Homo sapiens: one gene and its partner. The protein of the gene in region 1 purifies or fractionates together with the protein of each later gene. This does not show direct contact. Each region holds a gene or a part of one and is shown on either strand. Other genes may lie near its edges.

Region 1 (7,065 bases):
GTTGGGGACCAGCCTGGGCTACATGCCAAAACCTTGTCTCTACAAAAATTACAAGAATTACTTGGGTGTGGTGGCACCCGCTTATAGTCCCAGCTACTGGGGAGGCTGAGGTGGGAGGATCGCTTCAGCCTGGGAGGTGGAAGTTGCAGTGAGCCAAGATCACACCACTGCACTCCAGCCTGGGCGACAGAGTGAGACCTTGTCTTTAAAAATACATATATATGTATATATATATAAACACTAAGGCTGTCACTATTTTCAAGGGGGAAGAAAAAGACTTGTGGGTTATTGGAACACAGTTGATGGGGTCAAACTCAGGATGGGGTTTGGAATCCTAGCCTCTCCCTATATTTGGTCTTGTAAGCAGTTGGTACCACAGCTTTTTTGGTTAATAAATAGGCATGTTTATTTTTTTGAATCATGATATTTTTGAGTCAGTTAATTAAGGTATTTTATGTAAGGCATTTTTGTTTATTACTGTTACATTTCAAATGTGTATTTATTTGAAAACTTGAACATGAAAAAACAAGAGGCTGCAGAAAACCCAGCTAATATTAACAGAACTGCTTTTAGAATAAGGACATTGCCTGTTTACTTTTTGGTATTCAAATAACTAAAACAGTTTGGGATTTTATTCAAGGTAGAAGAACTGGAACATTTTTGGGGAGTCACTCAGTTTAAAGAGGCATTGTTCATCATTTTTATCAACCTCCAATTATAGAAGTTTTGGAAAAATTACATACATGTGACCATTGGGCATTCGGCATTAGGTTTTCTTTTTTTCTTTTTCTTTCTTTTTTTTTTTTTTTTTTTTTTTTGAGACAAGGTCTCACTCTGTTGCCCAGGCTGGAGTGCAGTGATGTTATCTCAGCTCACTAAAATCTCTGCCTCCTGGGTTCAAGCAATTCTTGTGCCTCAGCTTCCCGAGTAGCTGGGATTACAGGCGTGCAGCGCCACGCCCAGCTAATGTTTTGTATTTTGAGTAGCGACAGGTTTTTGCCATGTTGGCCAGTCTGGTCTCTAACTCCTGGCCTCAAGTAATCCACCCACCTCGGCCTCCAGTGTGCCCAGCCAGCATTAGGTTTTCAGCTGTCAGTTGTGTTTGTGAGTACTGCTTATTGCCTTCAATGGGTATGCTAGTACTGCTTTTTCTAAGCCAAATTCCCTTTTGGTTAATCAAACATTGCTAACTGAAATCTTTTCCTTTGCAGATATATTTACAGTAGATCGAGTTAGAGTACTTTAATCTTCTTGCTCTGTCTACTGTGGGAAAGAGAATATGCGAGGACTCTAAGGATCTTAATAGTGTGTCTTCCATGGAGCCTCTTACCCTGAGTATCAAAAGCTCTGGGCCAGAACTTTCATAAAGTTTTTGACTGGTGGGAAGAAGTATTCCCATTAAAGTGGGTTGAGGTTTAAAGGGGTATTAATCCCACTCAGATTTCAAAGTTATGTGGTCAAGTAGTTACAAAGAACTTAGTGTATACAACCCTCCATGGTAACCCCCCTGCCCACCCCCATCTCTTTTAAGGTAGACCTCCTGCATGAACTTTCCTCCAGGGCCAGCCCAGCCTGTCCTTGATACACACTCACATCCCATTCTTTTCTCTGATTCTCTGAAGCAGTGGTTTGCAGGGGGTTTTTTTGTTTTGTTTTTTTTTTGAGACAGAGTCTCGCTCTGTCACCCAGGCTGGAGTGCAGTGGCGCGATCTCGGCTCACTGCAAGCTCCTTCGACCAGGTTCAAGCAATTCTTCTGCCTCAGCCTCCCGAGTAGCTGGGACTACAGGTGCCCACCACCACACCTAGCTAATGTTTTTTTGTATTTTTAGTAGAGACGAGGTTTCACTATGTTAGCCAGGATGGTCTCGATATCCTGACCTCATGATCCGCCTGCCTTGGCCTCCCAAAGTGCTGAGATTAAGGCATGAGCCACCACACCCGGCCTGCAGTTCTTTTTAATTGGTGATGCTATTTTGTTTTATTTTCCTTCCTAATTAGGTTATATCAGAACCTTAAGAAAATAAAAAATCTCTCTCATTGGAAGAACAGAAAGCTACTGCTGTGACCTTTATCTTTGTCTCCCTGTAATACTTCTATGGTATGCTCAAAAACAAAAGACTGGCCAGGCACGTTGGCTGACGCCTGTAATCCCAGCAATTTGGGAGGCCGAGGCGGGCGGATCATTTGAGGTCAGGAGTTCAAGACCAGACTGGCCAACATGGTGAAACCCTATCTCTACTAAAAATACAAAAAAAATGAGACGGGCATGGTGGCATGTGTCTGTAATCCAGCTACTTGGGAGTCTACGGCATGAGAATCTCTTGAACCCAGGAGGTGGAGCTTGCTGTGAGCCGAGATCACGCCACTGCACTCCAGCCTGGGTGACAGAGTGAAACCCTGTCTCACAAACAAACAAACACAGACTTACATTCCAGCTCACCGCCTAGAATTTGAGCCGCTTGGTTGCCTGGGTGTGGTCACTCATAGCCAGTTTTTTTTCTGCAGGATTTTCAGTCAATGCATCATCGGAGCGACTCAACATGGGTGAAATCGAGACGTTGGATGACTACTGAGCACCTGCCAGTGGACTGGCCATCCCTCTCCTGTCTGCCGACTATGGAGTCTCCACCTTTGGACACAACACTTACTCACCATTTACTCTTTATCACTCTGCAACAAATCACAGAACCGATCATCTCAGGCTTTTTCTTCTGGCCCTTTGTGTCCAAGATTCTTTAATCCATTTTTGTTGGTGAACATCTCAGACTATAGATAAGTGGACTGGACCCTGTGTCTTGGGGGTGGCAGTTGGGATTACTCCCCAACAAGGCTGATTTTAGGCAGCATGTGTTCACTGTGCTGTGATTTCATCTACTGTCTCCCAGAAAGTGTGTTGGGATCGGCCATTAGCAGCTTGCTTTCTCTTGTCACTTTTTTTCTTCTATTTTGTTTTTTCTTCTTCTTTTTCCCCCCATCAGGGCAAATGGTCTAACTGGTGCAATCATGAAGAGAGTTAATGGTTAACAGACATTGGCCAATAACAAAACACCCCATGGACTGTGACTCGAGTATCCAACAGGCAGTCAGAGCTCTCCCGGTCTGAAAGTTGCATTGCCACTGCTAACTTTGGGATTGCATCAGAGAGGCCCTGAGTGGGGTTGAGATGAGGTTGGTTTGGTTTGATGTTACACACTCCTCACCTGTTCTTTCTGAGTGTCCTTTCTCTGAAAGGATTTATGTTTTTCTTCGTTAGATAGTGACTTCTGAGCAAGCTGATCTCCCCTGGCATGCTCCAACCTGATTGGACAAAGGAAGCTCTATGGCCTGGGAGAGAGACTATTCTTAATTTTTCTTTCTTACAAAAACTGATTTTTCCCATAAATATTTTTACTTCAGAGGACTAGGACCATTTTGTTTTGGGCCCTTCTGCTGAAAATTTGTCTCGTTTAAGAGGCAGCTAGAATCTTTACCATATGTATGAATTTGTATAATTTCATTTTTGGATAGGGATAAACTTTTGCTTCTGATAAAAGCCTGGAATTTCATCTGGTCCTCAGAGCATTGCGTGTGTGTCTTGCTGTAGCCCGGAAAAGGTTTTGTGTAAAGATTCTGGGATGGCAAGTTGTTTGCCTTTTCTGAAAAGAGAACATACAGAACCTGTCCATCTTTAAGACCTTCATCCATGGAATCTACTATACAGGAGGATGCAGTGGGCTGGAGGGGATGGGCGAAAATGGGAGCAGGAAGCCTGGCCTGGCTTCTGGTCATGGCCTCCTAAAACCTTAAACTTCAAGTAGAAATGTACTCAAGCCCTATTTATAAACAAATACTTTTCCTGCCTCCACCAAACCCCTACAGAACATCACCTGGAATTGCCACTCACACTGGGTTGGAGTCATTGGGCAGCTGTGCCTGTGCGAGAGGTGCTGTGGTCTGGGCAGCCCCTGGAAAAGCACCTTTGCTGCCTGTCATTGTTGCCTGAAGAAGGCTGGAGTTGCTCTGAGAGCAGTTTGGGTTTGGAGTATTATATTTGGCTTCTATTTTTATTATTTTGGATCACCATTCTCCCTATCCCTTCTTGCCTCCCTCCCTTCTAAACATGTGTAATAACTATACAGAGACTGCTACAAAATTGTATATAGTTTTTGGATCAAATAGCATGAGGGGAGAGGAAACCATTAAAAGTTGGGGCTCCTACTCTCCTTTGCTTTGTAAATTCAAAAGTTGGGGGTGGGTAAGAGGGATAGTTAAAATGTTTACAAAACTTTAGGCTCCCTCGGAACTTTTGCCAGTGTGGAGGAAAATAAAAAAGAACTTAAATAAAATCTGATTGTATTCTATCTGAGTGCACCTCTTGTACTCACCTTTATGGAGGCTGAGTTCTGCACTAAACTGTTCCTCTTGGTACCATGGAAAAGCTCCAAGCACCCAAGACATGGAGGCAGCCATGGCTTCTTTCTCTGCCAGACCACGTAGCACTGGCTGGTTCTGTATTTGAGAATGTAGAGGTCAAGGCAGATGTCGGTAAGTTTGACCAAATATCTTTTCTCTTTTTGACTCTCCCTTTCTGCTAACATGTGGATCAGCTCCTGCCCTCATACCGCAGACACACCCACTCTGAACACACCCCTCCAGAGCTTGCCCACACCTTCCCAACTAGACTCTGTGTGTGTATTCAGGAAAAATGAAAATAAATTTTTAAAAATTGGGAGTGGAATGGGCAGATTAGGGGGAACAAAGTCATTTTGGTCATGGAACATCCATTTGCTTAACCAAGGAGACTTGCTTCTATCTGAGGAATTTCCCACTTAGTAGAAAGAAACACTCTTCCCTGGGAATGTTTGTTTCTGTCTCTCTCAATGCTACTCTCTTTCATATTCTCATTTGCTCACCCTTTCACTTAGAGCCACCGTTTTCTCATCCCATTCTATGAACTTATTTCCAAATTCTCCTAACTATTCCTGAGTTTTGAAGTATTTGTTTTGTACCCTCTCTGCTTCCGGTTTTTTGTTTGGTTGGCTTTTTTGGAGATAGGGTCTTGTGATGTTGCCCACACTGGTCTCGAGCCCCTGGGCTCAAGTGATCCTCCCGCCTCAGCCTCCTAAATATCTAGGACTACAGGTGTGTGCCACCATGCCCAGCTCCAGTTTTGTTGGTTGATTTGTTTAAATTCAGAGATTTAAAAACATCCCAGACAAGACAGTTTGATTATGGAGACTGTCCCCAAGCAGATTGGTGTGCTGGTGGCTGCTGTGCATAACAGATTCCCTCCAGATTGGCTTACAACAGCTACTTCATTCTGTGGGTCAGGAATTTGGATAGGGCTCAGCTGGGTGGTGGTTCTCCTGGGGTATTCTTTGGTTGTGGTCAGATGTCTTCCAGGGCATCATTCCTATGAAGGCTTAATGAATTAGGCAAGCTGTCCAAGATGGCTCACTCGTGTAATGACAGTTGACGTTGGCTGTAGGCTGGGAACTCAGCTGGGTTGATGACTGGAGGAGCTTATGTGTGTCGTCTCCGGAATGGCAGCTTCAGAGGAGTTGAACTTAAGTGGTGATTGGCTTCCCCCAGAGAACCAGGCAGAAGCTGTGTTACCTTTTTGAGCTCTTAGCTCAGGAGTCACATAGAGTCACTTCTGTGACACTGTGTTGCATCAAAGTAGTCACAAACCCACTCAGATTCAAGAGAAGGGAGCATGGCCCTCTCCCTGCAACCCCCTCCCCCCCCGCCTTGATGAAAGGAGTGACAAGGTCACATTGGAGAAGAGCTTGTGGGGTGGGAGATATTATAGCCATTTTTGGGAAATATCTGCATAAAATGAGTTTATGCATACATGAAGGACTTTATTTTCATTGGCTTTAAGTTGAGGGTTTTTGTTTTTGTTTTTGTATTGGAGATGGGTTCTTACTATGTTGCCCAGGCTGGTCTCAAACCCCTGGGCTCAAGTGATCCTGTTGCCTCAGCCTCCCAAGTAGCTGGGACTACAGCTATGTGCCAGTGCACCCAGCTTGTTTTTTTTAAATTTTAGGATAGATAATGGTACTTCTGGCTTTATTTAAATAATTTTTTTAGGGAAACCATTGTATTTATACATGCATATATTTTTATATATACAAATATGTATATAAAAGTATATGTTTTACATTTTCAATATATATATAATATATACATATATGTTATATACGTATATATATTGCACCCTACTTTAAAATTGACTGATAACAAAATTGGTAATTTTGTATAAAATGCCCAACTGTGCATTATTAATAAAAGTATGTGAATGACTCTAATTAAACAGAAGTGATTCTTTGAAATGAACATATTCTGTACTGTCCTTCCAATATGTGACGTAGATCATTTTCAACAGAGTAGCAGGCAAGCGCATTCTACAGAGAGTAAAGTACAATCAGAGCACATTCCAAATGGAAGTTGGCCTTATAGTTAATGAGTTTCTTAGAACAACAAAAGCCCAGCTATGAAGGGTGCCTTTGGTCCTGCGTGAGTTCAGTCTCTGGTGAGGAAGCTGCAATGCTTTCTAAGACTCTGGAGAGTCTGGGAACCTTGAAGCAGCCAGATGCGTGATAGTTATTTGCAGGTGTTGCCTGAGAACGATGGACACGTATAGCTTTTGGTAGTGCTGGTTTTGGACTGGGAACCTAAAACCTTCAAGAGGACAGTTTCCCTCCAAAGAATTAATCAGTGGGAATGTTTTGCAACAAAAGTGTCAACCATAGCAGTGGGGCACCACATGGGAGAAACAGCATATAGATGCTGGCAAGGAAGAAGTGGGCTCTTTACCTAACAGCTGATCTTCGACCTAAAAGTTGTCATTGCGTTCCCTTTCATTGCTGCCAAAGCGATGACATCATGGGGATGGAATTCATGATCACCTCCACACTTGGTTCAATCCAGCTGATATAACAAGCAGAGACATCACCTCTTAAAGACTGTTTACTTGTCCCCCAATTGTAGGAGTGGAAGGTTAGTTTCCCTTGGCAGCAAATTGCCTTTTTATTTGAATTTCTCCTTTAGCATGAGAAATGCTCCTGGGAATGGTCAGTGGG
Region 2 (5,018 bases), on another chromosome or scaffold:
GAGAATTGTTGAACAATCCCTCAGCTGTTTTCCTCGTGAGCAGAATCTAAAATAAGACCTGGAATGACCAGTGCAAATACTTTTGCCTGGTGTAGAGATTCCCACCACGAGGCCATCAGGGGTGGGACTCTGGGGCCTGCGTGACCCACCGTGTGCCACGCACCCTGCCTTTGCAGATTGGCTATCGGCATGTGGTGGATGCTACTCTTCAGGAGGAGGCCTGCTCGCTGGCCAGCTTGCTGGTGTCGGTGACCAGCAAGGGAGTTGTGACGTGCATGAGGAAAGTGGGGAAGGGCAGCCTGGACCCAGAGAGCATCTTCGAGATGATGGAGGTGAGGCCTTAGTTCTGAGGAAGGTGCAGGGACCTGGCCGGGGTGCCTGCTGCTTCCTGCTCCCTTGGTCATACCGTGGGGATTCTCCCCATTCACAGCCTTGACCCCAAACTTGGAGATTTGGGAACAGCTGGTTTGAGCCAGGGGTCTGCTGACCTAATCAAGGGGGGTTGTGGGGGTGGATACTCTGGACTGGGAGGTAAGGAGCCTACCAGTAACCATTAATTGTCCTCAGTAAGTACCCCCCATCTCATTTCTATGTGTCTAAATAAGACTGTTGGACTTTCATAATGTAAAGAGCCACTCGTAACTCCAAAAGTGCAGGCCTTTGTGACTTGATGAGGGAATAGAATTCTTGGCTCACTGCTTCCTGTCCCTAGAAGTGGGTGAGTAAAGGTGGAAGCACGGGCTGAACTGTGGCTGTCTCCCAAATTCGTTACAGCTCTAGAAGTGTTTAAATGGAGACAAGCAGGGATGGTAAGAAATCTGACCCACTGGAGTTGGGTTGGGTTGCCCTCATCCCTAGCAGAGCCATCAAGGCGCTTCTACAGTTCTCTGTACTGTTTGCCCCACATGTCTGTCACCTCACTGGCCTGGAAGCCCCGCAGGGCAGGGACAGGGTCCTGCTCACCTGTTTCCCAGACCTTCTTTCCCCTATATCCACCTCACCTTTCTGACTGATTGACTGACTGAACTTCCAGGAACAGAGTTAGCAGGATCTGATTATTCATACTTTCTTGCAACCTCTATATCACCACACATGCCCAGAGATCATTGCTTAATAGCAAGCACTCTTCTTTTGTGTTTAGAAACAATGACTTCATACTGAAGAATCCAAGAACATGACATCTACTTTCTCTCTTTATCATGTTATTTAAAAGGCCAAAATGAGCACTGTATATAGCATGGAGTTCCCAACCATGGGCTGTGAGGGTGTACTGCCCTGGCTGCAAACCTGGCTCTGGGCCATAGTCCCCCTCATCTGCAAAGTGGGACTGATAATAGTAATATCTGCCCAGACACTGCTGAGGTTGTTATTAGGATGATGTGAGGTGTAGAGGAGAAGCACATGTCACAGTGCCTGATATGTCATCAGTTCTCAGCTAATGGCAGCTCTTATTCTCTGTGCTCCATGAAGCACCCTGAGTTCAAATTTCTCCAGACTTAATGCTGCATAAATTCTACCAAAGTCCTCTAGGCAAGGGACTGTCAAACCTTGTTTTAGAAGGTACTCTTCCCCCTCCCAGGAGAGTTTATGAGAATTTCTTTAAACAGCAACAACAAGCACAGTAAACAAATAGCTGGAGTTTATTGTGTGCGTACTATGTGCCAGATACTGTTTTCACTGCTTTAAATATATCATTTAGTCCTCAACAACCTGTGAGGTAACTATTATTATTGTCCTCATTTTTACAGATGAGGAAACTGAGGCACACAGAGGATAAGCAGCTTGCCTACAGGCCTCCCTGCTCATAAATACTGGAGCTAGGATTTAAGCCAAGACTGTGTGCGTCCAGAGCCCCTGCTCCCAGCCACTGTGCAATGTCAGCCTTATAAACCAGATCTGCCCTGGCTGTCATAGATGGCAGAACCAGAGCTCTGTTCAGTGAGCTGAGCTTTGTCCTCCCCTCAGGTTTGGGGAGTGAGGTCTGCTAACTCTGGACAGGGGACTATAGCTCTGTGGCCCTGTCTTACTGTTTATCTCACACAGGGATGCAGCAATCTGGAAAATGACTTGGTGGAGCTGAGAGCCTTGGGGGTAGTTGTGCAGGCTGCCACCCCTAGCCTCTGCAGTTGCTTTCCTGCATCTGGATTCAGAGGCGTCAAGGCCCTCTCAAGTCCTGGCATCCTGTCCATCTCATCTCCTCTTGTTGTCCTCTCTCCCCACCCTCATGTATATGAATAATCAGTACCCCTGTTTGACAGATTCAGACTTTTTTTTCTTTTTCTAATGTTATGGGAAAATCTTTCCAAAGGCCCTTTTTTTTTTTGAGATGGAGTCTCACACTATCGCCCAGGCTGGAGTGCAGTGGTGCGATCTCAGCTCACTGCAACCTCCGCCTCCCTGGTTCAAGTGATTCTGCCTCAGCTTCCCGAGTAGCTGGGATTGCAGGTGCCCGCCACCACTCCCAGTTAATTTTTTTGTATTTTTAGTAGAGACGGGGTTTCAGTATGTTTGCCAGGCTGGTCTTGAACTCCTGACCTTGTGATCTGCCTGCCTCAGCCTCCCAAAGTGTTGAGATTACAGGCATCAGCCACCACATCCAGCCCCCGAAGGCCTTTTTGACCTTTAACCCTGACTTTGCATTTCATAGAGGTGATCACTTCCCAGCCTTTTAGATCGAAATCATCTTTTCATAAGAGTTTTAGTCATACTTGGGATCTCATCCCATGTTACAGTTAGGGGCCAGGGGAGAAGACACACAAGTCATTACTCTGGGGAGGATACACCTGTAACTGAAGAGATTGAGGCAGGGATTTAGGCATGGATGTTTTTATCTCAACATTGTTGAGAATGGAACCAGTGGCAGAGTTGAATCCACACTGCTATGGGAATGTGAAAGACCTGATAAGGTAGAGATTTGTGGTTGGTTCTTTGTATTCTTAAAATGATTCTTGGGCCCAGAGACAGAATAACAGTTTCATAAAGAAAAATATATTTTTTTATATTGGGGTGGTGGTTGTTTTTTGAGACAGGGTCTTGCTCTGTTATCCAGGCTGGAGTACAGTGGCACAGTCACAGCTCACTGCAGCCGTGAACTCCTGGGCTCAAACAATCCTCCCATCTCAGCCCCCTGAGTAGCTGGGTCTACAGGCGCATACCACCATGCACAGCTAATTTTTAGTTTTTTGTAGAGATGGGGTTTCACTCTGTTGCCCAGTCTGGTCTTGATCTCCTGGCCTCAAGCAAAATCCTCTTGCCTTGGCCTCCAAAAGTGCTGGGATTACAAGCATGAGCCACTACTCCCAGCCATATTGAGTTTTTTTGTTTTGTTTTGTTTTTGTTTTTGTTTTTTTTACCTCTCGTGTCTGCTCTGTAGGGACTGATTATTAATTTTGTGGGTTGTCCCTCTTGATGTGTTTCGATTCTAACATTTCACTGCCTTTAGCATCTCAGCATGGCAGTAAACACCAAAGATCCCATCCAGGTACTGACTTTGGTCACACCTGAGCAGTTCTGCTTAGAGGCTTCATGGGAGGTGAATGAGAAGCTGCTTACTAAAATGTCCTTGGCATCATCTGTTTCTTCTCCAGACAGACTCTGGATTCCCTGTGGTCTCCCTATAGTACAGTGTCACCTGGCTGTACCCAAGCCCAGATTTGATTGACAACTTTGTTGCTTGTTGCAGTGGCAGCAGGATAGTGAAGCATGAGCTAATGGCCAGGGCAGGCTTTGCTGCTCTCTGTTTGTTGCCTGGTGGGGGCTGGTGTTTGTCTCTCTTTTTTATTTTTTTGATATGACGATTTTTACAAAATTTATTATGTTGTTGGGGTCTGTGGTTTTTGTTTTAATTTGCTTTAATTAAATAAAAGTCCTCTAAGGCAGATGGAATGTGTACAATGTCAGAAAGACTAGCTGGCAGAAAGGAATGCTTTTCTGGTCAGAGTGTGTGTGCCTTACAAGGGGGTGTGTGCTCTCTCCCGTCCCTTCTCCACAGACTGGCAAGCGTGTGGGCAAGGTACTGCATGCCTCCTTGCAGAGTGTTGTGCACAAGGAAGAAAGCCTGGGGCCCAAGAGACAGAAAGTTGGATTCCTGGGATGATTTGCACATCAACTGCTCAACTGTGGATTGTTTTTTACTTTTCCTTTTAAACCGGTTCGTATATATTTTTCTTCGCTGTTACGAATTTACAGCAGCATTTGTACATGTAAAATTAAAGGCTATTTTCTGGTCTGGTTTGGTATGTCTAGAGTTCTTCAGTTGAAGCCAAGGCACCATTCAGTGACCCATCTGGGTCTGGCCCTTATCTAGTGAGTGGCAGACAAATCCAGAGCTCTGCCACCAAGGGAGACCCCCACAAGCTGGAGTAAAGACCTGACAGAAACTGGTTTACAGGAAATGCTTATGATATGTATTTTGTGAATTTTTTTCCCCTTGAAGAACTTTAAAAATAAGAATCACAAAGAAAAGTTCATTCACCTTGTGTATTTGGGTGGTTCTGGGAGAGGAAAAAAGAGGAGGCACTCTGCTGCAGGTACACACCCAGGGCGTCTGTCTGTCTGGTTAGCCATCCCAAATCCTGGGAAAGTCCAGCTCTGACTTCCTGCCCTCCAAGAGATCCGAATGGAATTCCCTAGGTTCAGGGGCTTTAGTGGCAGCCACTTTGGCCCTTAGCCATCCTTTCTTATCACTCTTGTTTTGAAATTGCTTTGTGTTTTATAACCACTCCCTGGTGTTTCCTAAGATTTTGTTTTGTCAGCATTAAGAAGGCAGCTTTCAAGATGTTGTCATTTGATAATTCAGCTGCCTTCATGCTCTCAGCATTGAAAGGAAGACTATGCTTGCTGGCCCAGAAGGCTCTTCCTATAAGCCTGTAGTCTCACTGTGCAGTGTGTTAAAATTAAGTCTCTTCATGTGTAGAGCAGCCTTTGTTTTTTTTTCTAGGGGAACTGAAACTCCTAAATCTTAAAACACCCTGGGGAAGGAGCTGATTCACGAAGGAGAGCGTTTCAACCGTGGCATT

What was found.
Region 2: the proteins of GIGYF2 (region 1) and EXOSC7 purify together in Homo sapiens (affinity purification with mass spectrometry; 2 studies listed by BioGRID). This does not show direct contact.

What each region holds. Positions count from the first base shown.
Region 1 is NC_000002.12:232,854,287-232,861,351, forward strand, and holds the end of GIGYF2 (GRB10-interacting GYF protein 2), read left to right. Parts: intron 1-2,506; coding exon 2,507-2,574; 3' UTR 2,575-6,319; downstream 6,320-7,065. UniProt on the Homo sapiens protein: Key component of the 4EHP-GYF2 complex, a multiprotein complex that acts as a repressor of translation initiation. In the 4EHP-GYF2 complex, acts as a factor that bridges EIF4E2 to ZFP36/TTP, linking translation repression with mRNA decay.
Region 2 is NC_000003.12:45,007,244-45,012,261, forward strand, and holds the end of EXOSC7 (exosome complex component RRP42), read left to right. Parts: intron 1-176; coding exon 177-332; intron 333-3,991; coding exon 3,992-4,096; 3' UTR 4,097-4,228; downstream 4,229-5,018. UniProt on the Homo sapiens protein: Non-catalytic component of the RNA exosome complex which has 3'->5' exoribonuclease activity and participates in a multitude of cellular RNA processing and degradation events.